6 separate regions of the Homo sapiens genome follow, and all the other regions are linked to region 4. Evidence: fine-mapped expression QTL. A gene starts in region 4. Each other region holds a variant in brackets. All regions are shown on one strand. Distances are between the middles of the regions.

Evidence for each region.
Region 1: its variant is fine-mapped to the expression of IGSF9B in whole blood (TOPMed, PIP above 0.99).
Region 2: its variant is fine-mapped to the expression of IGSF9B in whole blood (INTERVAL, PIP above 0.99).
Region 3: its variant is fine-mapped to the expression of IGSF9B in whole blood (INTERVAL, PIP 0.97).
Region 5: its variant is fine-mapped to the expression of IGSF9B in sun-exposed skin (GTEx, PIP above 0.99).
Region 6: its variant is fine-mapped to the expression of IGSF9B in sun-exposed skin (GTEx, PIP above 0.99).

What each region holds. Positions count from the first base shown.
Region 1 is chr11:133,920,970-133,925,055 of GRCh38, reverse strand. It overlaps IGSF9B (immunoglobulin superfamily member 9B), which reads left to right. Exons shown (of 20, transcript NM_001277285.4): 15 at 152-236; 16 at 2,326-2,487; 17 at 2,834-2,879; 18 at 3,659-4,086. Among named protein-coding and RNA genes, the nearest start is that of MIR4697, 24 kb to the right of the region's middle. The variant T/C (reference allele first, on the strand shown) is at 2,215.
Region 2 is chr11:134,033,856-134,037,941 of GRCh38, reverse strand. LINC02731 (long intergenic non-protein coding RNA 2731) reads right to left here. Exons shown (of 3, transcript NR_027276.1): 2 at 301-430. Among named protein-coding and RNA genes, the nearest start is that of LINC02731, 3.6 kb to the right of the region's middle. RefSeq lists silencers at 389-678, 759-968 and an enhancer at 113-1,084. The variant G/T (reference allele first, on the strand shown) is at 1,573.
Region 3 is chr11:134,021,663-134,025,748 of GRCh38, reverse strand. All of the region lies in intron 1 of LINC02730 (long intergenic non-protein coding RNA 2730), which reads right to left. Among named protein-coding and RNA genes, the nearest start is that of LINC02731, 8.6 kb to the left of the region's middle. RefSeq lists an enhancer at 811-1,613. The variant G/T (reference allele first, on the strand shown) is at 1,716.
Region 4 is chr11:133,954,714-133,958,799 of GRCh38, reverse strand. It overlaps IGSF9B (immunoglobulin superfamily member 9B), which reads left to right and starts at 1,832. Exons shown (of 20, transcript NM_001277285.4): 1 at 1,832-2,109. The coding sequence starts at 2,046. RefSeq lists a silencer at 1,654-2,003.
Region 5 is chr11:133,927,214-133,931,299 of GRCh38, reverse strand. It overlaps IGSF9B (immunoglobulin superfamily member 9B), which reads left to right. Exons shown (of 20, transcript NM_001277285.4): 11 at 166-316; 12 at 1,518-1,629. Among named protein-coding and RNA genes, the nearest start is that of IGSF9B, 28 kb to the left of the region's middle. RefSeq lists enhancers at 192-486, 272-566, 134-806 and a silencer at 3,607-3,696. The variant G/A (reference allele first, on the strand shown) is at 2,196.
Region 6 is chr11:134,216,342-134,220,427 of GRCh38, reverse strand. It overlaps NCAPD3 (non-SMC condensin II complex subunit D3), which reads left to right. Exons shown (of 35, transcript NM_015261.3): 3 at 3,330-3,492. Among named protein-coding and RNA genes, the nearest start is that of NCAPD3, 5.6 kb to the left of the region's middle. RefSeq lists a silencer at 3,907-4,086. The variant C/T (reference allele first, on the strand shown) is at 1,640.

The DNA.
Region 1 (4,086 bases), 34 kb after region 4:
GTGCTACCATCGCTTAGCATTAGACACTTAGCAGTCCTCCTGTGCTTTGGGTGCCCTGCCCTTTGCAAGGCTGTGTGCAGGATGAGTGTGTGAGGGGACAGTGGTCATCTCAGGTCCCTCGGCTGACTGGGTATTGTCCCTGGGGCTGCAGGACACGTGGTATGAGTTCCGGGTTCTGGCCGTCATGCAGGATCTGATCAGCGAGCCCAGCAACATCGCCGGCGTCTCCAGCACAGGTATTTTGGGTTGAGGGTGCTCTTGCAACTATAGGGACATAAGCCCCAGAGCTGCATGGGGGTCATTTTGTGAAATGGCTACTCCACGAGGAGAAGCTGGATTGGAAACTAAGGCAGTGCCTGGTTGCAGCTGCGTGAGTCATAGCCTTTCTTAAGCCCACCAGACCCATATTTCCATGATGCATGCTATTTCGTGAAGCTCAGAAGCTGAGTTTCTGACACTTGTATAAGACAGCCACAGAAAGAAATTCAACTAATCTTCTCATTATAGTAGTCAAAAAGGACTTGATTGAAGTGCTATTTGCTGTACATTTTCAGTTTCCTCTTGTCGGGGAGGGGCTGTGAATCGGAGGAAACAACAGGTCAACCATGTTTATCAAATGCTTGTGATAGACTTCTTTATAATTATGTGGGTTTTATTTGGAAAATTGTTGTTTGGTGTTTTCCTCCCTTCCTTCCTCTCTCTAGATTTTTAAGGCTAAATAAAGCCAATTCCCTAGCATTTTCTCCATTTATCTTTCTTTCTCTTGGCCCTGGTCCCATTTCTACACATCTTCTCTCCAGCTATAGTTCCTGAGACATAGCAGGTTCCTCCGCCAGTGAAGGGGTGTCCTTGGTATGGGAAAAGGCTCTTGCTTATAAGCAAGTGATGGCATCATTTCCTTGGGCACCGCTCACCCAGAGTCCCCTGGGACCAGGTGACAGTGACCTCGTCTGAGGAGCTCATGCAGCAGGACTTGTAGAGTTGGGGAAGTGCTGGTGTGGGCACACTGCAGGGAGCACGAGAGCAGGGGCAGGTGTGGAGTGCAATTTCTGCTTTATACATTAGGCATCAATGGGCTTTAAAAAAAAAAGGTTGTGTCCTACAGGTAGCAGAACCCACAGTCTTTCTTGACTTCTCTGTGGGGAATAGACTCAGAGTTGGAGGAACAGGGATGAGAGCTTGCATCCAAGGCTGGAGCTGAAGAAGGGGTGTTGTGTGGGCCCACCCCTGACCATTCTGTGCTCAGTAGCTCTATGCCAGCTCCTGGCAGGAAATGTGCCTCGTCAGACACTTCCACACAGGGGAAGGAGGAGGCAGCAGCCTCAGCATTCCCTGTATTAGGTCCCCCATTTCCAAAGGCTGTAGCTTTCATTTTCCCCTCAGACAATCAGCATCATCTGGATTATTTTTATCCATTATTATTATCGATGCAGCAATGAATTCTGGCCAAATACGTTACAATCTATCGATTCTGCCTTTGCTGAACCTAAGCAGTGGCACTTACCGACACAACTTTCCTATGAGTATAAGATGGTAGGCTGGTGTCTAGTCTTGGCTCGGTCATAACGAGCTCTGTAGACTTGGGCAGGAAAGGAGGACGTTCAGCTCCTTATGGTGAAACGAGAGATTTGGCTCCATCTCTGCTGTCCCTGCCAGCTCTAGGGTACTTCCGTACCTGAGATGACCAGGATGCGAATCTTCAGGACGTTGCATGCCTGTACTAGAAGGGGAGAGGATCTGAATTTTGTAGTAATAATCCCTCTTCCTGCAGTCGTATTTTATCCTCAAGTTGCCTTCACACCTGGGCTCTCCTTTTGTAGAGACACTGGTGTGAGGCAGGAAATCCCAGACTGGGAGCAGGCAGCTGCGTTCTGGTTTGGGCACTGATGGCAATATCCACGTAAGCGGGTCTCTCTAACCCAGTGGATCAGAGCTCTTTCATTTAGAGAATGAGAACAGTATGTGTGCTCTGTGTAGCTCATGGGGTTAACATGAGAAGAGCTGATAACGTGCATGAAGGTGCTTTGCAGAAGGCAAAACCCTAGATAAGTATAGATTACTCTTGAAGTCATTATCCCCATGGGGACAGGCATAGATGTTTTCTTCTTTACACCCTTTGGAGAGATTGACTTCTGTAGACTCTCCTCTCTTCTTCCTCTTCGTGACGCCATCCAAACCTCTTCAGTGCTAGAGTTCAGCTTGGAGCCCGAGCCT[T/C]GACACTGTCTGTTCTACAAAGGCAGGGTGAAACACTTGGGGACTGAAGGTCGGAGCAGGTGAGGTCCCGGGGAAGGATGGGCTCATGAGTGCTCCCCACCCTCCCTGCAGACATCTTCCCGCAGCCGGACCTGACCGAGGATGGGCTGGCGCGGCCTGTGCTGGCGGGAATCGTAGCTACCATCTGCTTCTTGGCAGCTGCCATCCTGTTCAGCACCCTGGCTGCCTGCTTTGTCAACAAGCAGCGCAAGCGTAAGCTCAAGCGCAAAAAAGGTGGGTGTCTGTCCCCTTCCCTTGCTCTCCCTGGCCCGGTTTCAAATGCCCCCCATCAAGAGAGGTGGACCATTTTTAGCATGGCCCCCCTTGGAAATAGGGACATTGAGATCTTGTGGGTAGAGCTGCCAGTGAGACTTGATTTGAAAGTGGGGGTAAGAAGCAGGGGTGGTGGGGAGAGGCTGCTGGGGCCCAAGCTAGCATGAAGGCAGGGGCCAAAGATGCCCACTGTGAGCAGCTCCTTCCCTGTGCGGTGGTGCTCCGGCTCTGTCAGCCTCTGCAGATGCGCGTGCTGCGTGGTTGCTGGCTTGGCCTCAGCAGCCTCTCCCCTTCTCTTTCCTTCCAGACCCTCCACTCTCCATCACCCACTGCAGGAAGAGCCTGGAGTCTCCGTAAGTGTCTCAGATCCTGGGAGAATTGTGCTGTTCATGGCAGGGGGCGCATAGGTAGACCGCTCGCCTTACCCAGCCCCATGTTAGTGTTTCTAAGCCATTTCTTCTTGATTGACCTGTGTGTTAATTGTACTTGCCCAGCCCCATCTCAGTGTTTCTAAGCCATTTCTTCTTGATTGACCTGTGTGTTAATTGTAAGTTGTCCACGCTGGTAGAGGGAGTGGCAGTGCAGATGATCCAAATTAGCCAGTAATCAGTTTCTCTTCAGCCTTGGAATGTATTTCTTTAGTGTTTTCCCACCCTAGCAGATTTGCCTCCTTAATATGTGTTGCTTAAGTTGATATTAAAGTGAGCTTGCTTGTCTTGAAAAGAGGGGAATGAAGCTGGAGGTGTGCTTAGAGCACAGCAGAGAGGGGGCAGGCCAGCACAAAAGTGAAGAGGCGGGTGTTCACTGGAAAGACGGATGATGGGGGGGGCCGGGCGCGGCGGCTCACACCTGTAATCCTGGCACTTTGGGAGGCTGAGGCAGGAGGATTGCTTGAGGCCAGGAGTTCAAGACCAGTCTGGGCAACATAGCAAGACCCCGTCTTTAAAAAAAAAAGGAGGATTCACGTCCAGACGGTGGAGAGTTGGCCAAAGCATTTCACACCACGATACACAGCCAGTTTTCTTGAGCGTGAGGATCCTGGGTGCTGGGTGGTTGCCGAGAGAGGGAAAGGAAGTCCTGGCCAGCACACTGCCCCACCTCATCCCCTCCCGGCTCTTGCTCCTCCTTGCAGCTTGTCCTCTGGCAAGGTGAGCCCCGAGAGCATCCGCACGCTCCGAGCGCCGTCAGAATCCTCCGACGACCAGGGCCAGCCCGCGGCCAAGAGGATGCTGAGCCCCACCCGTGAGAAGGAGCTGTCGCTGTACAAGAAGACCAAGCGGGCCATCAGCAGCAAGAAGTACAGCGTGGCCAAGGCAGAGGCCGAGGCAGAGGCCACCACGCCCATCGAGCTCATCAGCAGAGGCCCTGACGGCCGCTTCGTGATGGACCCTGCCGAGATGGAGCCCTCGCTGAAGAGCAGGCGCATCGAGGGCTTCCCCTTCGCCGAGGAGACGGACATGTACCCCGAGTTCCGCCAGTCGGACGAGGAGAACGAGGACCCACTGGTGCCCACATCTGTGGCCGCCCTGAAGTCCCAGCTCACCCCTCTGTCATCCAGCC
Region 2 (4,086 bases), 79 kb before region 4:
AGAACACGGAAACATTCACAAACCTGCCTGCCGTTTGAGGGACTGTGGCTTTAGAAGTCCTGTCTTAAGTGTGGGAGGCAGCTGCCGCCTGTGCTGACGGCTCGGCCACCGCGTTTCCCAGCAAGAGCTTTGCAGCTGAATGTCAATCACAGTGCTCCACCACTGTGGATTAGAGGGAGCCGGCCACTGTTGCAAATCTGAACTAAAAACAATGTTTTAATTCTACCAAACTGTAGACAAACCCATTTGCAAAACTCCTAGCAAGTTATCATCTTCGTGTGGTCCCAGGTGAGCTCTGACCTTGGCCAAGTCCCTTCCTTGCTTTGGGTCTCAGTTTCCGGTTTGTGAAATGAGGGGGCGGAGGGAGCAGCGCCGAGGCCCCTTCCGGCTCTGCAGTGCCTCGAATTCTAGGCTGCTGGTGCGTCTTTTCCTGAGGGGAAACGGGGAGAAAGTGCAGCCTCAGGTGCTGGCCTTTCCCGGGAAGAGCTCCCCGCCGCCTTCCGCCGGCCCCACGCCTCCGCCCAGCTCCCGCCCACCGCCCTCCCCTCCGCGGCGCAGGAGGCCGGCCTGGCTCCAGGATGAAGCGGAGGTTGCCGCGGCGCTGGCCGGTTACGGCTTCATAAATCCCAGTTCCACGGGGGAGGGCCCAGCACGGCCCAGCACCCAGACGCTGAGGAGAAGTGGGGCTTTTCCGTGCGAGAGTGTGGGCGTGCCGGGCGCACGTCCGGGAAGGGGTGCTGAGGGCCGCCCTGCTCGGAGGAGACCCGCCCCTGCACCGCCCCTCCTCCCGCTCCCCTCCCGGGCCCTCTGGTTGGGAGAGTGGAGAAGAGTCGAGAAGAGTGGAGAAGAGTCGAGAAGAGTGGAGAAGAGTCGAGAAGAGTCGAGAAGAGTGGACAAGGCGAACCGTCTGCAGCGAGGCGGGGCTGGGGGGCGCGGGGAGGACGGGGTTCAGGCCGGTGTCGCTCTCAAGGGGCAGCCCTGGTGTCACCCCCACCCCCTCCCACGCTGAAGCCTTCCGGCCGAGCTGTGGCATCCACGCAAATGGGTGGGCCCAGGATTGGGTTTTCGGCTTGGCGGTGGGGGTGGGGGCGGGGGCGCGCGGCTAGAGACTGCAGGCTCGGAAGGATCAGATCTGTTAACTCCGAGTCCCTCCCTTGAAATCCGTGCCACCTTTCCCTTCCTCTTTCCCAGGGCCGCCTCGGCACCTCCAGGCCAGAATTTAAATGTTATCAGCGGCAATTGATCTGCTCGGGACTGAGGTTTCGGGTCCTCTGCGGAATTGGGAGGAGCGTGGATGGTGAAGGAGCTGCTGCACTGTGGCACGGGCTTGGCCGGGGCTGCCTGGCTCTGAGCAGGCTCGTGGGACGGCCCTGTAAGGACCCCACTGCAAGAAGGGCACAGAAGCACCTGAGTTGGCGTCTCAGCAGGGACCCCCCCAGGAAATGCCCTTCTACAGCTGGTACTCAAGCTCTTTACACACTTAGCCATCGCTATACACAGTCCACGCTTGTGCACCCACACCCACAAGCTTATGCTCACGTGCACTTTTTTTTTTTTTTGAGACGGAGTTTC[G/T]CTCTTGTCGCCCAGGCTGGAGTGCAATGGCGCCATCTCAGCTCACTGCAACCTCCGCCTCCTGGGTTCAAGAGATTCTCCTCCCTCAGCCTCTAGAGTAACTGGGATTACAGGCGCGCGCCACCACACCTGGCTAATTTTTGTATTTTTAGTAGAGATGGAGGTTTGCCACGTTGGCCGGCTGGTCTCAAACTCCTGACCTCAAGTGACCCGCCCGCCTTGGCTTCCCAAAGTGCTGGGGTTACAGGCATGAGCCACCGAGCCCGGCCTCACAGGCGGATTCTTGAATCCGTGTGTATAATTCTTCTCTTACAGTCATCCAGCAAACATGTACAGACCCTGCTCACGTTTCCACATAACCATCCTCGTCTTCCTTTTCTATCCTTCGGGTCCGCGCATTTGCCATCCATACATGTTACTGGATACAGTTAGCTGGAACATATGAAATGCCCTTTCCTAGCACACACAATGGATCTACGTATGTACAGGCCTAAAAACAGAATACACATCCTACATGACATGTACACATGTGCACACAGAAACAACAGCCTTCACGCCGTCTGCATATGCGGGCCATGCCCAGGTCCCAGGCACACAGGCCAGGCGACAGTCCACTTCATCACTCAATTGCCTGCTCTCTTTTCCTCACTCCTTCCTCAAGCAGCTGTCCGTGGGGGAGAGCCTCTGCTCCTAGCTATCGCAGTGTCTCTTCATTCTGAGTTGAGCATGGGAAACTGTGTGATGTAGGGAAGGATGGTGATACCAGGCCTCTGGGAGCCTGGGCTTCATAACACGCTATTTTGCTCATTTATTTTTGTATACCTTCACATGCCTTGTGAGGCCTTCCAGAAATAGATGTTCAAATCCTACCTCAGTTTCCTCATCCATAAAATGGATTAAAATACTATCTGCCTTATCTCCATTATGGCAATGTTGTGGGAATACAATTCAACATCTAAGAAAGCAGACTGCAAAGTGTAATATGCATGATGCTATAGGCTATCAGGGTGTGTCAAGAGCTGGCAAAGTCGGGGCAGCATTTTCCTGCTGTGAATCAGGCCTGTGCCGGTCGGTCTTGCTGAGGCCCTAGCCCAGGGCTTCATGAATCGCAGTAGAAATCTCACCCGCTCCTTTCCTCCGCCTGTGTCACCCTCATCCTCACTTTTGTCTGTCCCAGACATATGGCTACAGAGCCGACGGCTTGGGGAGGGCTAAGAGGGCCTTGGCACTGAGCGGGGCATCTGCCCTGGGCACGTGGGCACACAGAGGCTTGGCTCCCAGGCTTTTCTGAGGGCTTGCACCTGGGAAAGCTCCTCTCTGCTCCTGGGCACTGGGGCTGTGCCAAGCAGCTGAGTCCAAACAAGAGGCCCTGTGGTGTGGTGAGTTTCCCCGACCAGCCGGGGCTGCTTCCTGCACCTGTGTTACCCTGGGTAGGCATAGGGCTGTCAGAGGAAACCCCCAGTAGCACCTACACATCTATGATGGGCAGAGGAAGACCACATTTTTATCTAGTCCAGAGACCTCAATGCTTCAAGCCATGGTGGCTGGTAGGGGTTAGGGTAGCCCTGAAGGAGGGGAGGCAGGAAGCTGGGGCCAATGCCAGCATCAGAGGGAGGCCAGCAGTTGGCACAGCGCTGGCTTATGTCCAGCAGGAGCATGTGAGAGGTGAAGGCACCATTCTGCAGGAGGGCTGGCTGGCCTTGGGGCTTAGAACAGGCTCCAATTCAGTGCAGAGCCTTTATTCCTTTAGCTCAGCACGAACAAACCCAGGGTGGTGCTTATCTCCCTCAGTTTTATTCCTCCCCGGAGTGGTATTCAGAGAAGAAATTCCACTGGGACACCTGGTACTTGGTACTGCAGATGAGCATTTCTGGACATGCTAGGTGGAGGGGAGAGGCTGAGGCTGGGGTCCCAGGACCCTGGGTTCCCGCAAAACCTCAGGGCTCCCTGAAGTGAACGTAGGAACAAGCATGGATGGGTGGAAGAGGGCCTCTGTGAAGCCCATCCCCGGCCAGGCCCTGCTCTCTGCAGAGGTGATCTGGGTGACCCCCTCCCTCCTCCAGCTCTGCAGCAGCTCCCGGTTTCCAGCAGGGCTGGCCAGGAAGCCGTGGCCAAGAGGGAGCTGGGTAGACAGGGCCCAGAAGTCAGAGCAGTCAGGGGTGGAGCGTGCAAACTCTGCAAAGCTCTAGCCTGGCTCCACCCCTTGCCTGCCTGAAGCTCAAAAGGATGACATCACCCAGACTGAGGGCTCCAGCCTAGATGGGCTTCATTAGCAGGGAAAGCCGGCACCTGCAGGGCTCAAGGACTTCCCGGGTTTGCGGGAGGCGGTCCTCTGCTCCTCTTGTGAATCCGGTTCAGCTTTAGGGGTCTCTGCTCTGAGTCTTGGAGACAGCACGTGGCTATTCGGGCTTCCAAGTCTGGGGCTATGTTTCTTCTACCAGAGACCAATCTCTCGGGCACCAGCATAAGCACTCTTTCCTTCCACCCTGCCAAACGCTGCTTTTCCTTGCCAGC
Region 3 (4,086 bases), 67 kb before region 4:
CCACTAGATAAAAAGTGGAATTAGAATAGCATTCAGCCATGAGTCTGCCTAATTCTAAAGCTCATACAGAGAGGACTTTTGTGGGGGAGGGCTTCTGACCCTAATGCCAGAGCTGGGTTATGGCATAATAGTCACGCATTGCCACTTACTAATTGAGTGTGGGTGGGCTACGTGCATGTTTCAGGCCTCAGCTTTCTTACCTCTAGGGAACACCATGTTCTATAGAGGATGATTGTATAGTGAGCACTATTGATTACGTAAAGATCAAATGAAACAACGTCGGGAAAGTTCTTGGTAAACTGTGCCATATACTACAGCAATGCACTCAGTGCCCTGGCACTGAGGCCCGGCTCGTGCCCCAAGAATCGGGAAAGTTCTTGGTAAACTGTGCCATATACTACAGCAATGCACTCAGTACCCTGGCACTGAGGCCCGGCTCGTGCCCCACGGGGCTGTGTGCCCTTCCCTTGGCTGGCAGCTCAGGGCAGGGAGCCCAGTGTGATACCCGCTGAGGAGGGAGATGGCATAATGCCCTTGGGTGCCCATGTGCCCGGGTCAGCAGCCAAGAGCAGGATGCTTAGGAATTCCACCGAGGCAGCTGGGCCCCGGCTTCATTGGCAGGGGCAGAAGGGAGGCAGGTGTGAGGGAGGCCAGAGCGGGGCTCGAGGAAAAGAGGCTGGGTGGGCCATGGAACACTTTCCAAGGGGTGTCACAGAGCCACGCCAAGTGTGTGTCACCCTTCTCTATGAGGATGTGTGATTAGTGGAAATGAGAACAAGCTTTATTAGTCACTGCTGAGGAGAAACACCACGAAGAATTATCCAACCTGCTAATGGAAGGGTGCACAGGCCTCTGTAGGCTGCTGGAAGGGAGGAGTTTCATGTCCTCTTTTCTTTTTGCCCCCAGAAGACTCATGTTGCTGAGAGCAGATGGTGAGGGGGAAGAGGGTGGGTCCTCATCCTTGAGTCATTTGCTGCCGGGGTACCTTTTTGGGGCTCTGGGAAGTACAGCAAGCATGTTGGACGGATAGGCAGCCTGTTTGCAGGGGGGCGAGGGTCGGCCCGAGGAGGCGCCGCTGGGAATGACTCGTGCCCAGTCAGAAGCTGTAATTGGAGGTGATTAATCTGTGGAGGACAGCGTGGGGAGTCAGCGCTGACTCAGGACCCAGGCGGGCCGCTCCCCTCTCCCACTTCACCTGCCTCAGGCGGCAGAGGGAGGCTGCTTGGAAAGGCTAATGATTCAGAGGCCCTTAAAACAGAAGGATGAGCAGCTGAGGCTCCAGATCAAAGATGTTTTAACCCTTTAATGGTCCAGTGGTAATGTGAAGAGGTTGAGGGTCTTCCCTCGGAGTCGGGGCCCTGGACACGCGAAGCACTTATTTTATTTATTTATTTTTTTGAGACGAAGACTCGCTCTGTAGCCCAGGCTGGAGTGCAGTGGTGCAATCTCGGTTCACTGCAACTTCTGCCTCCCAGGTTCAAGCAATTCTCATGCCTTAGCCTCCTGAGTAGCTAGGACTAGAGGCGTGCACCACCACGCCCAGCTAATTTTTGTATTTTTAGTAGAGACGGGATTTTGCCATGTTGGCCAGGCTGGTCTCGAACCCCTGACCTCAGGGACCCCCCTGCCTCGGCGTCCCAAAGTGCTGAGATTACAGGTGTGAGTAACTGCGCCCAGCCCCACTCAAAGCACTTCCGATGCACCCCATCAGAAGT[G/T]GGGGTCAGGAGCTCCTCCACTGCAAGATACTAAGCTAAGGCTTTCTAGTTAAGGGGACCTAGATTTCAGCCCCAAGTAGGCACTCCCCAGCTCTGGCAAGCGGCTCAACCTCTCCAAGTCTGTACAATGAGGACAAAACTACCTACTTCATGGGGACTCAAAGAGATAGTGTTTGTGAAATGTTAGCAGAGCCGGGACTAGACCTGGGATGGGAGCAACCAACGCCTCATCCTGGGAGAGGCCACACTGAGCATGTGTTTTAAAAGAGGCTGCATTCACATTTTTCACCTCTCTTCTATATTCCAAAGATAAGCAAGAAGACCTGGGTCAGAAGAGCCAGCGTGAGTCACGCACAGCTGTCACCAGGGACAGTAAGATGGGTGAAATGAAGATGCAAATCACCAAATATTATTTTACCTATACACACACACACACACACACACACACACACACACACACACACACACACATACAGGTAGTCTAAAATTGTACACAATATACACAGTAAATATTTAATTAAAGAGGCTGTTTTCCTATTGGTAACTGACCTTACACCTTGGGGGAAGGTGCCCAGGTACACATACCTTGAAAACGCCCAATGGCTTTTGAGGAGACCTTGGTGGCAGTACTTTGTTTTGAGTGCAGGATCTTAGCAGAAGTCAGGACGCAGTGGACTTTTAGGGGAGCTGAGTCTGGAATAGTAAAGATGCTCCGGTCCAGCTGCTTTTGTGTGGTCAATCTGAGGGAGGGGGGGGTGGACTGTGTCATGGGGTTGGGGCTAGATCTTGGATGGGTTCATCCAACCCAACACCATGCATGTGCCTTAAAAGAAGTTCTAATTCTTTTTCAACTTTTGTGTACCTCAAAGGAGAAGTAAGAACACTTGACCAGTAAGAAGAGTGAGGATTAGATTTTGCACAGTTGCCAGAATGCAAAATCGAGATGATGGATATGAAATGCAAATGGGCAAAGTTAGGCATGTTCCTTCTTTATCCTCAAGGACGCTGAGCCAGAGCCGCAGCGCGCTCCCAGACAGAGCACAGCTCCCAGGTTCCCCAGCTCCTGTGAGGACCCACAGCTGGGGTGGCCCACACAGAGATTGGGATTCTGCCAACCTCACCCAGAGATGCTCCCTCTCCATTCTCGTGTTCTTGTTTGTTTTCTCCTGCCTGGTACCGTGCCTAACCACATGACCCTTCCAGGGACTCTTGCCGCAAGCTGGCCTATTCACCAGGTGCAAACAATTTATGCAGCACTTCCTACCCGTTCTCCAGTGTTTGTGGTGAAATTGGGAAATGCAAAGGTTATTTTTCTCAGGAGCATCCTGCAGCAGGTCTGGGATTCAGGCCTGTCAAAATTCTCCCCTGCAGATACATCTGGAACATTCCATTAGCAGCAGGAACTCTGACAATCAGGATGGTTTAACTCTCAGAGTGGGGAGCCAGGTAACCAAGACCTTTACCCTGGAGATCATTAGAAATAAAACTGCAATTTTCACATCTCCCTAGAGGTATGTTCCTCCCTGGTGGGAGGGGCTGAAGGCCTATAAGCACCCATCTCAGCCCCAAGAAGCCCAGTTCTTCCAATGTCCTTCAGCCTCTACCAGCTGCAGAACAATAAACAAACTCTGTCCTGTGAAGCTTCCTGCACAGTTAGCATTTGTGGGCTGCAGCCTCTTGCCATTTGATGTGTGGACAACAAAAATCAGCATATAGATTGAGCTGCCGCTATACGGAGGGCAAAACGAAAACGGAGAAGACAGTGTTTCGTTTTTTATTTATTTTTCTTTTTTGAGGAGGAGTTTTGCTCTTGTTGCCAAGGCTGGAGTTTAATGGTGCAATCTCGGCTCACTGCAACCTCCGCCTTGCGGGTTCAAGCCATTCTCCTGGCTTAGGCTCCTGAGTAGTTGGGATTATAAGCATGCACCACCACACCCGGCTAATTTTGTATTTTTAGTAGAGATGGGGTTTCTCCATGTTGGTCAGGCTGGTCTCAAACTCCTGACCTCAGGCGATCTGCCCACCTCGGCCTCCCAAAGTGCTGGGATTACAGGCGTGAGCCACCACGCCCGGCCAAGACAATGTTTTAGAGTCCAGTTGGCTTCTCTTAGGGAGAAGATCACTCTTCAGAGGAGGGACTAGCCGGCTGCCTCCGCCACTTAGTGAAGGGGAGGGAAGAGTCTTACTAGTAGGTTTGGTCACAAAATTCCCCTTCCCCACCACCCCCAACACACACGCAGCGGGAGAAAGGAAAGGGGAAGGAAAGATCCAGGTGGCCTCGGCTGCTGGCCTCGTTCTGTTTCCTCCCTGGACCCACTGGTTAGCACGTGCTGAGCCCAAGATCTGTGCTCTTGGCTGCAAGGATTTCCCC
Region 4 (4,086 bases):
GACCAATTCTGCAAATGGATTCCAATATGTCTTTACAGTCCCGGGGCCCTGGGAAAGTGTGTAAGTGTGTGTGTATGTATATGTGTGTGTGTGTGTTGGGGGTGGAGTTATTCTGGGTCATGCCACCTGGAAATCACTGCATCAATGAGACCTGGAGATCACTGCATCAATGAGACCTGGAGCAGCTCACTTCATTGTCCCCAGAAAGGCATCTTTGCCCAAGAAGAGAACCAAAATCATGGCTCAGGGAGAGATGGCCCCAAGTTATGCATCTTGAGTGTGTTTGCACAGGTGGAGGGGTGGGTAGGGTAGAAGGTTATTCAACAGTCCTGGTTCTCTGGATCTATCCAGGCCCTCGACCTTTATCCATGTGCTCACTGACTGCTCTGTTGGGGGCCTCTTTCTGCCTCCCAGCTGGCGGTGAGCTAAGAGGCTTCCGGTGTCAGGGAATGCTCCACCTCCGGTGTTCAAGGCCACTTTTTGTGCATGTGTGTGTACCTGTGTGCACGCTTTCCCAGAAGCAAGTCTCCTTCTTGTTGTTTTGGGAGCTTCATGTCCTGGAGCCAGGGCTTTGTGGCTAACGAGTGCTTTGAGAGGATGAAATTCCTGAGCTCTCGCTCGCTGACCCTCTGCCTTCCTTCCTTGGCCAACAGCCCATCCCAGGGAGCGGTGTGATTCTTACCACTGCCTTCACTCCTTGAAAGAACAAACATCTTCACTGCAGCCTCTGAGCGCTGGTGTGAGGTGATTGTTTGTAGTAGATGTTTCCATGACACTCATTTATTTCTTCTGCAAATACAACTGTATTGGGGGAGGGGAAGCAGACAGGCTAGGGTAGGGAGACTGGAACATACGAAGACCTTCCAGTTTCCTATTTACATTCCTCTGTAGGATGAGAAGCTCCTTCCCTTTCCCTGGGTCTCCTCCATCCCAGACTCCTAAAGCTTCCCCCAAACCCATCTTGGTTTCATGCGGCCGAGTCGGGGCTGGGCTCCGAGTAAGGTGGAGAGGGGAGGAACCATGTGCGTGAGGAAGCAGCCTTTATCAGGAGAAGTGGGAAAAAGACCCAACTTTGACTGCTTGGAGTCGGGATTCAGTAATGATGAGCAGCAGTGACCAGCACTGGGGGTGGAGTGTGTGTGCACGAGTGTTCCTGAGGGGTCTGTGGCACTTCGCAGCTGAGCCAATGACTCACTCTAAATCTTAGCGACTTTGAGAGGTCATTTTAGTCATCCCCCGGTCTGCATCACGTTTGGAGGGGGTGGTGCGCTGCTCTGGGGACGTGTCTGGGTGCGGAGGGAGACGGGGTGGGGAGGCGGCGCGTGACCTCTTTGAAAAGATCTCCGGCGAAGGACGTTCCCCGGCTCTCCCGGGCCGCCGGCTCCTGGGTTTCCCCATCATAGAATCAGCATGGTCCTCTCGGGAACTGCTTTTTGCCGGATGGAAACCGGATGTTGGGTTCCATGAGTGGGCGGGGGCTCCACTTCCCTCAGACCTGTCCGGGGTAATTGAGACCCGCCAGGGTCCCGTTAGAAGCTACCATTTCCCTCACCAGAAACTTGCCACGCAGTGTGAGCCGAGAGAGAAGCGGGCAGAGACGCTATACCACCTTCTCCCCGGCAATGCGCATGATTCTGCGGCTCTGTGCTCGCCACACTTCAACGCACCTTGAAATGGGCTCGCCTCCTTCGCGCCGCGACGGGCGGAAGGCTGAGCCAATCGGACCCCCGGCTTGCGGGCGGCGCCCAATAGGCGGGCGGCGGGGGCGGTTCCGGAGGCCCGGCCCGGCTAGGCTTCACCGTGGACCTGGCTGCGCTCCGCCCGGGCGAGTAGTGCAGGTGCCGCTGCGCCGGGGCCGGGGAGGCGCGCGCCGAGCCGAGCGGAGCCTAGGAGGGATGGAGAGCTGGCCACCCGGGCTGCAGGAGCACCGGCGCGGGGCGTAGGCGGCGCGAGGCGGGCGCGAGGCGGGCGCTCGGGCGCGAGGCGCGTGCGGGCGCGGGAGCACTTTGCGATAGGATGAGGCTCCGGGCTGGCGCGGTAGTACTATGATTTGGTATGTGGCCACTTTCATAGCAAGTGTGATCGGCACCCGAGGGCTTGCGGCTGAAGGTGAGTTGAAGTGCGGCGTCCCTCCCCTGCCCCTCCCGGCGCCCTCGGCCCCTCGCGCCCGGCCCCTCGGTTTCCCGGCTCCTTGGCCCCCCGGTTCCCCAGCTCCCCGGCGCGCCTTCCCGCGGGTGAGGCTTGGGCTCCGACGCGGGCCAGGCGGCCCGGGAGCATTGCCGGGGAGGGCCTGGGGGCCGTGGGCTGGAGGGGCGGGCGGGAAGGGGCCAGAGCCCACGGGCTGCCGGGCACTCGGGGAAAGGACGCAGTGGAACCTGGGTCGACTTCGCCCACCACGGGCCCCACGGTGCACACCGGCGCGCCTAGCCCGTCGCCTCCTGCCCGGCGGCCGCCTCCCAGAGCTGCGGGAAACTCTGGCTGCGGGAGTTTGCGGTCTCCGGGCAGGCTGCAGCACGCTAGAGCCCCGCGCCGCGAGGAGCGCCTGCAGGGAGGCGCGACCCGGAGGATCCCTGGGACTGGCGGCACCCGCGTCTAAGGCCCCGGGTTCGCGCGGCCCTGCGGGCGTCCATCGCTCCGCTCGCGCCCCTCCTGCCCACACATCTTGGCAGCTGGAGGTCGGATCCCCCTAGCAGGGGCGCCCGGTGAGAGGAGGATTGATGAGGCCAGCTTCGAGGTGTGTCCGCTTTTGGCTGGACCCCGCCGGCCCCCGCGCCTCTCAGCCGCACCTGGGCCCCGGCCAGGCAAAAGTTCCCCGGGAGCGCGCCGCAGCCGCGCGGGCCCCACGCCGCCCTCCCCAGGCTGCGAGGCAGAGCTGGCTGGGGGCGGCGGCGGGGGAGGGGAGGGGCGGGGAAGGGGGGGTCCCCACGCTGTGAATCCGAGCGGAGGGGGGATTTTCTCTTTCCGCTTTCCTGGGTCTGAGCTGGGGGAGACGCAAGGGGGGAGCCACCGAGTTGGGTGATGCGTGCGTGAGCGCGCGGGCTTTTGCTTTGGAGATGGGCAGAGCGACCTACAAGCCTCTGGGTGGCACCCCCGGCTCTCGGCCCTTGTATGGAAGTGGGAGCGGAGCCTGGAGGGTGCCAGGACTGTGAGCTCAGGGCTGTCAGCGCGCAGACACGACCCGGCTGCGGGCAAGTTCACCAAGCCGGAGGAGATGGCGGCGGGAGAGAACCCGCTGTGGGTGGGAGTCAGCAGGCAGGACTCGCCGACAGAGAACCCTCTCCCAGCGGCATGGGGCGCCGGGTGGGCTGGAGGCGCCTCTCACGGGGTCCCCTCGTCACTCGTCTGTGCAGGGGGGCGTGCTTCAGGAAACTTTCCGGAATGGAATGAATATGTCGCCTCTGCTTCTGAGGGGGGTGGTGGTGTCTGAAAACAGAACGAGCAGAGGGCGAAGCGAAGGGTGATTTTGTTAACTGACATGTTGGTCCGGACGGTTTTAAAACTCTTCATTTGTCAGGTGGGAACACTGAGGCAAGGGTGATGGCGGAAGCTTACGGAACGGGGGGTGGATGTGAGGTGCATCGGGCTGCGCTTGACAGTCTGCCTGTAGCCTCATCCTCTCCCCCATTTCCTTGCCGTCTTCCAATGCCCGCATCCTCCTCCCCTCCCGTTTTTGGTATGTTCCTGCTATGGGACTGTCCCTGAAAGCACAAAAGGATGAGCTGGGATCTTTGAATAGAAAAGAGACGCTGAAGGAAGGCTCTGAAATAGCCTCCGAACCTAAGTCAGGGTGGGCAATGGACTTCTTTGCAAGTTTCAGCCCAGAATAAAGGAATGTGAGTTTATACTGCAGCAACACGCAGAATCGCAAGATAGAAGGAAGGGCTTCCCAAAATTGAAGGCTGCCTGGCATGAAGGTTATGCCCTCTTTCAGGGTGCAGAGGGGTCCTTCTGTCTGGAATGGCTGGACATGTACCCCTGTCTGGAAGCAGAGGGTGACCTTGCTGGTCTTGGGGTCTTTCTTAGCCTCAATTGCTCTGTGTGTGGTAGTTAAGGACCTAGGTCTAGAGCCATATGACTGGGATTCAG
Region 5 (4,086 bases), 28 kb after region 4:
GGCTAGATGCCGAGCAGTGAGCTGACCCTGAAGAGCGGCAGGCACTCGGGAGGAGGGCAGCGTGGGCGGGCCGGGGTCTCAGGCGCGTCCTCCCCATCTGCTTCGGGCTTCTCTCCTAACCCCCATTTCTGTTCCCACCCTCTTCCCTGCCCCTTGTTCACCAAGGTAGGGAAGCCCAGCAGAAGCAAGCACAGTGCCCTGCCCAGTGGGAGCCTGCAGTTCCGTGCCCTGAGTAAGGAGGACCACGGGGAGTGGGAATGTGTCGCCACCAACGTGGTCACGAGCATCACTGCCAGCACCCACCTCACCGTCATCGGTACGTGGCCGGCAAGGCTGGGCCGGGCGGCGGGGACAGAGCAGGCTGGCTGGGGGCGGGGTGCTGGACGCTGGGAGCGTCCCCTGGTGGCCGCTGCACTCTGCGGGCTCCCTTCCTAAGTCAGTGCAGCCCTGAACTCCGCGTCCAGCACCGGCAGCCTTTGCCCCCGTGGGCTCTGTCGGGGAAGGGCAGCGTGGCTCCTGTCCTCAGGGAGGTCTTTCTGGGGACAGGCCTGATGTCCACAGCAGCCCACCTGAGGGAAAGAGGCGGCTGTGTGGCTGGCAGGGACTGCAGAGCCTTGAGTTTAAGGGCCTTAGGGAGAGCTGGAGGGCTGGAATGAGGGAGACGGGGACTGTGCAGCATCTCAGATGAGGGCAGAGCTGAGACCTGCAGGCCAGGCCTGGCGTGCGGAGGCTGGGCAGGAGGAAGTTTCTGGGGTTCTGTGTCTGGGCGTTCCCGTTTCCGATTGCCCGAAGCGCGTGTCCCAGGACCTTCGCCTGGGCCCTCTCAGCCTGTCCTTCTGGGTCCTGACGGCTATAATCACAGTCACAGCCAATGCTTTTGGAGCCTTTACCACCAGTTTTAGGTTCTGTTCCAAGTGGTCTGCACAGCTCGTCCTTCACAACTCGGGAGGTGCGAGCTGGGGTTTCTCTAGTGTAGGTTCCTCGAAGCAGAGGTTGCCGTGGCCCGAATGCTTTCTCCGGCGTCACATCGCTAAGAAGTAGTGGGTCCGGGAATCGAAGCCAGGATGGGGCTCCTAACTGCTGTGCTGTGCTGCCCACATGCCAGCATTGGGGTGGGACGGAGTTGTCTTCTGAGGCCAGAGAACCTTACGGGAGGGGCTCTGTGGCTGTGCCTGCCGCCTTAGGAGAGAGTGTTTCTGTGCTCACCAGAGAAGCACAGGATTTGGGCCAGGACGAGGAGGGCTCTGGTTTCTGTTGGACCCATTCCTGATGCTATGTGATCTCCTAGTTGGACTAGACCGCACAGTGGGACAGGCTTCCTGCTCCAACCCCACTAACAAGCAGGGTCAGGGGAGTCGGCGCCTGAGAGCATCCCCGTCGCCCCCATCCCTTCACTTGCAGTATTGTGCTCCGCTGCCATGCGCTTCAGCCTCTCAGGTTCCCCACAGCCAGACGGTGGGCACCCAGCCACGTGGCTGAGTTCTTTTCAGTCTGAGAGGTCTCCACTTGATCTCCAGGCACCAGCCCCCATGCCCCGGGCAGTGTCCGGGTCCAGGTCTCCATGACAACTGCCAACGTGTCCTGGGAACCAGGCTATGATGGAGGCTACGAGCAGACATTCTCAGTTTGGTACGGACCTCTGTGAGTCACCCCGGCATGCTTTGCTCTCTGCTTCTCCCCTCCCCGGTCTTCCTGCAGGCTACCCCGGGTGGGGGGAGGTAGGAGGAGGCTGCAGTTCCTGGCCTGCCAGCCCTGCACAGACTGAGGTGGGTTGAGACAGTGATGAGGTCCTTGTGGGTGACGGGAGGGGTCTGAAGGGACTCTGGGCATGGCTGTGTCCCTGTGGCCTGAGGGGTCTGGGCCTCTCTGTGCCCTCTCCCTGCTCACGTGCTGCCTCGTTTTGCGTCCTGCTTCATCCTCTGGATTCCTCTGGAGCCTGGAAGAGACTCCTGCCCTTCAAGGGCTTTGTGAAATTGCCCAGCCTTAAGTGTAGAGTCTAGTTTTTAGACTAATTTTTTTTGTATTTTTGTATTTGTAATTTTTGTGGGTACATGGTACATACGTTTGTAGGTATGGGGTACGTGAGATATTTTGATATAGGCATGCAGTGTGTAATAATCGCATCAGGGTAAAGGGGTATCCACCCCTCAAACATTTGTCCTTTGTGTTCCAACAATCCAATTATACTCATAGTG[G/A]TTTAAGAATGTATGATACATTATTGTTGCTTGTAATCCTGTTGTGCTGGCAAACACCAGGTCTTACTGGTTCTTTCTCACTATGATTTGTACGTGTTCACCCTCCCCACCTCCTGTAGTCTAGTTTTTATTCTGTCTTTTCCCCAGAGGCCACAGAAACTGGTGTGGAGAGGTGATGCTCACTTCCCAGCCTTGGGGTCAGCCCCTGCATTTTCTCTCTAGGACCATGTGTTTCTCGATTGTTTTCATTCCTCTGTTGTCAGTTTAGCCAGATGCAGTCATATGAGGTCTTTGCGCAAACCTTAGGGTAGATACAGATCTCAAAAATGTGCCAAGCGGGGTGAGGGCAGGAGGCACAGGAAGGGAGGAGAAGGAAGCCTAGCTGACTCCTCCCACCCCCAAGGGCTGCCCCTCCCTACACTCCTGTTTGAGTAAGAGTGGCAGCCACCTGCCCTGCCCCGGGGGTGACAACCTTGAGCTGGGAGGGCGAGCCCCTCAGTGCCTTCTTTTAGACCTGTCTCACCTGCAGGTGTCTCTCTAGCCAGGCTCAACTCGAGGAGGGGGAGCTCGAGGGGAGGGGGAAAAGGCAGGCACCTGGGGCAGCTCAGGGGGTTCAGGGAGACCCCTTTATCCACTTCTCAGCAGCGAGGGAAGTTGAGAGGGGCACCCGCTCTGTCTCCCATCATGGTGGTTCGGTGGCTGCTTCCCGGGCGGAGTGTCCTGGGTGTCTTGATTCTGATTGGAGAACTGCACCTGGATGATGGGAGTTGCCGCAGCTCACCTCCCGTCCCCTTACTCTGTTCCTCCCGCAGCAGCGTGGGGGCCCTAACCAGCCTGCCCGGTGGCTGCTGGGAGACCGGTGCTGCTCAGCGCCTAGGTGTCCAGGGTGGGACATTTGGTGTGGTCAAGCTGTCTTTGGAGATGCCTGGGTGGGAGGTCTGGGCATACGATGGGGGGCTCAGGTGTAGATTGGGGCTCCCCTGCTGCTTGCGGTGCTGCTTCACGCTGCTGCTCCACGCTGCTGCTCATCTGCACTGCTTTTCCACACGTGGCTCCTCGCTGCTTTGTTGCCTGGGCCAGGGAAGGGCGGGGCCGAGGTTGGGGAGGTCTCCTTTCTTTCTGCCTGCCTCTAACTCTGTGCACTGACTCCGACGTTTGGCGCCGGCTTCTTTTTGTACTGCTTTCCGCTGCCTCATCTCACCCTCCTGGGCGTGCACGGTAGTGAGCCGGGACCCGGGAGTGGATCCTGGAGGGCACCCACCAGGTTACAGCTCAGGGCTGCAAGGAGAGGGCCAGTCCCACAGGACCATGTCTCCTCCCTGTGGTGACGTGGCAGCACTGCACCCATAGCCCTCCGGCTTTGCTGGGAGTTGGGAGCCTGTGGAACAAGGGAACACCCTCGGCCCGTCTTCCTACTCTCCATGCATAGCGTGACCTTCTTCCAACCCTTACGGCCTTAGGGATCCTGGCCCCACTGTGGGGAAACCCCTGGTCATTATGGTCTTATACCCTGGACATCTCAGGTGACTCCAGTCTGATTGGATGAATGAGCCCTGTGGGTTACCCGAGGCCCTACTTCAGCTGTCCCTGGGGGTGTGTGCAGCCAGGTCCTGGGCTCCTTCCCTCATCCTGCCACTGTTGAGCCGCTTATCCCCATACCCCAGAGCCTTACTCTCCCAAGGCAGAGCTTGTTCTTAGGGTTGTGACCAGGGTGGGATTCTCCCACAATGCAGCTGGTAATCCATCTGACCAGTGTCCTGAGCACGACTTGCACCTAAAGGCCCCTTTGGTAGAAAAGATGCCAGCTGTGGTTGGTGACCCAGCATCAGGAGGATTGGCACAGCCAAAGCTGGGCAGGGCATCCACTCTGGGCCATGCCCTCTTCTTGCCC
Region 6 (4,086 bases), 260 kb before region 4:
TGGAATATCCTAAGAGCTTTCCTCCAAAAGCTTCAAGGTACTTGTCTGATTTTTTTTTTTTAAGACACGACTGTTTTTTACAATAGCAAATTAAAGGAAAAGTATAAGGCCGGGTGTGGTGTCTTACGTCTGTAATCCCAGCACTTTGAGAGGCTGAGGCTGGCCAGTTGCTTGAGCTCAGGAGTTTGAGACTAGCCTGGGCAACATGGCAAAACCCCATCTCAGAAGGAAAAAAAAAAAGGAAAAATATAAAGGCAAAAACAAGAAAACTAGACCAAGGAAAATGCAAATAACAATTCAGACATGCCTTAACCTTAACTTTAAGAAAATCTGCGACCAGGCATGGTGGCTCATGCCTGTAATCCCAGTACTTTGGGAGGCCGAGGTGGGTGGATCACGAAGTCAGGAGTTCAAGACCAGCCTGACCAAGATGGTGAAACCCCATCTCTACTAAAAATACAAAAATTAGCCGGTTGTGGTGGCGGGCTTCTGTAATCCCAGCTACTCGAGAGGCTGGGGCAGATAATTGCTTGAACCCAGGAGGCGGAGGTTACAGTGAGCCGAGATCACGCCACTGCACTCCAGCCTGGGCGACAGAGCAAGACTCTGTCTCACAAAAAAAGAAAATCTGATATTATTAAACTGAGGAATGACTAGTTGAATTAACAGGTTTGTCCAAACAGTTCCTGTAAATATTGAGTTCTATCCAATGCATAGAAATATAAATTATTATTAATATTTAGGTTGTTAGTTTTCAAAAAAAACCAAAGGGTTGGGAAACAGAACAAAAGCTAATTGGATATTAACATCTCTGAAACATTTAAATGAACAAAAAAAAATTCACTTCCAAGTTTCACATCACAAAATTAAATCATCTAATTAAACATTCCTTCAGCATAACACTAAGCACTGCCTTAAGTACCTGAGTTGACAGAGTGGGGATTACGATACAATCTCCCTAGGTTGAGGTCCTCCCCAGGGACCTCAGGGAGGAAGAGTGGACATTTGAACACTAGCCAAAGTAGGTCTAGCAGCCACATGCAGTTGCAGGGGGTGGAGAGTTCAGTGCCACTGTGCATTTGGGCGCCTGGAAATATTCTACGAACCACACTGTGAAAAATGCTCCAAGAGAGGTGCGGATTTGTTGCATAGGGTGTGAAAAAGGGAGCATGGTAGGGTTGGGAAAGTTCCAGAAAGAAAGTGGCCAGCAGCGAATCTTCACAGATGACTAGCAGAAGCTTGGGTTGTAAGGCAGTCCTAGTGAAGGAGCCACCCAATGGGAACACGCAGGAAGTGTCAAGAGGCATACAGAAAAAGTGTGGTGGAACGGGATGGTAAGGTAGAGTAAGGGTAGGTCACGGGTAGCTTTACGTGAGGTTCAGCAGTGGAGTTTGAACATGTTTGGTAGAGTGTGTATGAGGTTTTGTTCTAAGCGTCCTGCATGTATTAACTCATTTAATCCTCAAGCAGCCTGTGTGAAAGAGGTTACAGTGGGCAATAGATAGGTAACATGAATAGATCTGTTTTAAGCAGACGTTCTTGACAGTAGGTGGACTGAAGTGGGAAAAATTGTGTGCAGGGAGAGCCCTTGGGAGACTGTATTGGTGATCCAGGTGTTATGAGTAATAATGGCATGATC[C/T]GGAGTTACAATTTTGGGAACTGGAAAGGAAGACTAAAAACTAGGGACATTTTTGGAATTAGAATTAATAGGGCCTTGTGAACTAGGAAGCCCTTTTGAGATATCTTAAAAACATGGTGTGAAGTGCTAAACTGACTGGGCATAGGGAATTAGAAAAAGAAAGAAGTCAGTGATCCCCAGGGTTTCAAAACTAGGAAGATGATGATATTGTTAACCAAGGTGGGGAATAAGGGAAAAAGAGCAAGGTCAAATGGAGAAACAGTTCTGTTTAGACTTCTGAACTTGAGATTCTGTCAGGAGATCCTTGGGAAGTTTAACAGGTAGTAGAAATGTGAGACCAGGAGAGAGAAGAGAGTTCTTTAAATTGAGGTATGGGTTGAAGCACAGTGATGCATGAGATCACCGAGGGTGAGAAGCAGCCAGGACAGAAATGGAGAGCTGATTGGACGGGGTCTGCAGAGGAGCAGTCACATGTAGGGAGTGCAGGGTCACTGACGCCCAGACTAGACAGCAGCCATGGGATCACATGGGGCCAAGGTGACCCCATATGCAGAGCCCTGGTGAGCAGATGGTTTAGGGTGATCGATCACCCTCGTGTGTGAAGTGGAGGTGCAGGTGGCATTAGGAATGAGGATGTGACACTGTAAAGTTAGGAGATGATTTCTTCCCCCCCCCCCCTTTTTTTTTTTTGAGACCAGGGTCTTGCTCTGTCACCCAGGCTGGAATGCAGTGGCACAGTCAAAGCTTACTGCAGCCTCAACTTATTGGGCTCACATGAGCCTCCCACCTCACCCTCCTGAGTAGCTGGGACTACAGGTGTGTGCCACCACGCCCAGCTAATTTTTTATTTTTTGTGGAGACAAGGTCTTGCTTTGTTGCCCTGGCTGTTCTCAAACTCCTGGGCTCAAGCAGTCCTCCTGCCCTGGCCTCTCAAAGTGCTGGGATTACAGGCATGAGCCATTGTGCCCAGTGGAGATGATTTCTCCCGTAAGTTTTTTAGTTAAGGAAAGGAGAGTGCTCTGCTCACTTGAATTTTGTGGGCCTTTTTTTGTTACGATACTCAAGGATAAACCATATTTAGTTCCTGCTATGTTTAGGTTATTAAAATAACCCATTTCTTCTTCATGTGTTTAGTAGGAGAAGACATGGAATGAAGATAGAATTAATACAATTGTGGTTTCTTTTCTAGGGTTTATCTCCTTTACCTGGGCCATTTCCGAGATCTCTTTCATTTCCTGCTCCCATTGCCTGCAATCTGCAGAACATTTAAATAAAGGGCTCTGATTTCCTCAGTTAGTAATTATTGGTAAAGGAATTTGAGTTCCTTTTAATATAAATAGAGGGATAACTTTCCTGAATAATCACTAATATATGGTGTCCCAAAAGTCTTAGTGTAGTTTTAAGCTATAATTTCTGAAGTATATATGCTACAAACTTAACAAAAAATTCTTTTGAAAGTTTAATTATTTAAATATGTTATATACATATTTATCTTGGTAATTTTGAATAATATACCTTTAATTTTGATATTTTGTTTCAGTCCCTTTGAAGATGGTAAACATTTAGCAGTAGGAGCCAGGCTACTCTATTCCTCTTTTTGTAAGGCACCAAGAACTTACAAAAATCAAATAATAGGAAATGTTTCCATTTCTCTAATGACTGGCTTTTGTGATTTGCGGTCTCCCCACAGAGTATCTGGACCTTCTTCATTGAGAACAATGTTTCCCATAGTACACTGGTGGCATTGTTCTATCATTTTGTTCAAATAGTTCATAAGAAGAATGTCAGTGTACAGTATCGAGAATATGGCCTTCATGCCGCTGGGCTTTACTTTTTGCTACTAGAAGTACCAGGTATGTAGACCTGATATGATAGGATAAATCTTCTGTCATTTTTTTCTTTCTACAGTTTTCAATTCTTATACTTTGTTTCTTGTTTCTTCACTTATAAATGGGGCAGTGCTAACCCATGGCAGAGAGTTGTTGCGAGGAGCAAGTCTCTAAAGTACATGGCATGTTATAGGTCTTGGAAAACCTTCCCCCTTTTTTTTTTCATCCGAAGTTATGCTATCTATAAACTAATAAAAATAGTCTGAGAAGGAGTGCAAGAGTTCCACGCCCACCCTCCACCACGGCCGTCTAAAATTCTGATATTGCCCTTTCTTCTCATGATTCCTTGTCTAGACTGAGAAATACTGCTGTGGGGAGTCATTGCTTTTTACCTCTCCGATGTTGGTATTGAAAAATAGATTAAAACCATTCTAATCAAGAAAGCAGGAAAGCAGCTAGTAATACTTGAAGGAGAGCACTGACCAGGAGTCTGTTTTCGAGCACTGTTTTACTTGATTGTCAGAGCACTGAGGAGGCTGTTCCTCCTATGACAGTGAAATCCATTCTCTTCCCTACTCCAAACACAGGGTGAGAGAGAGTGGAACATAGAGATTGAGT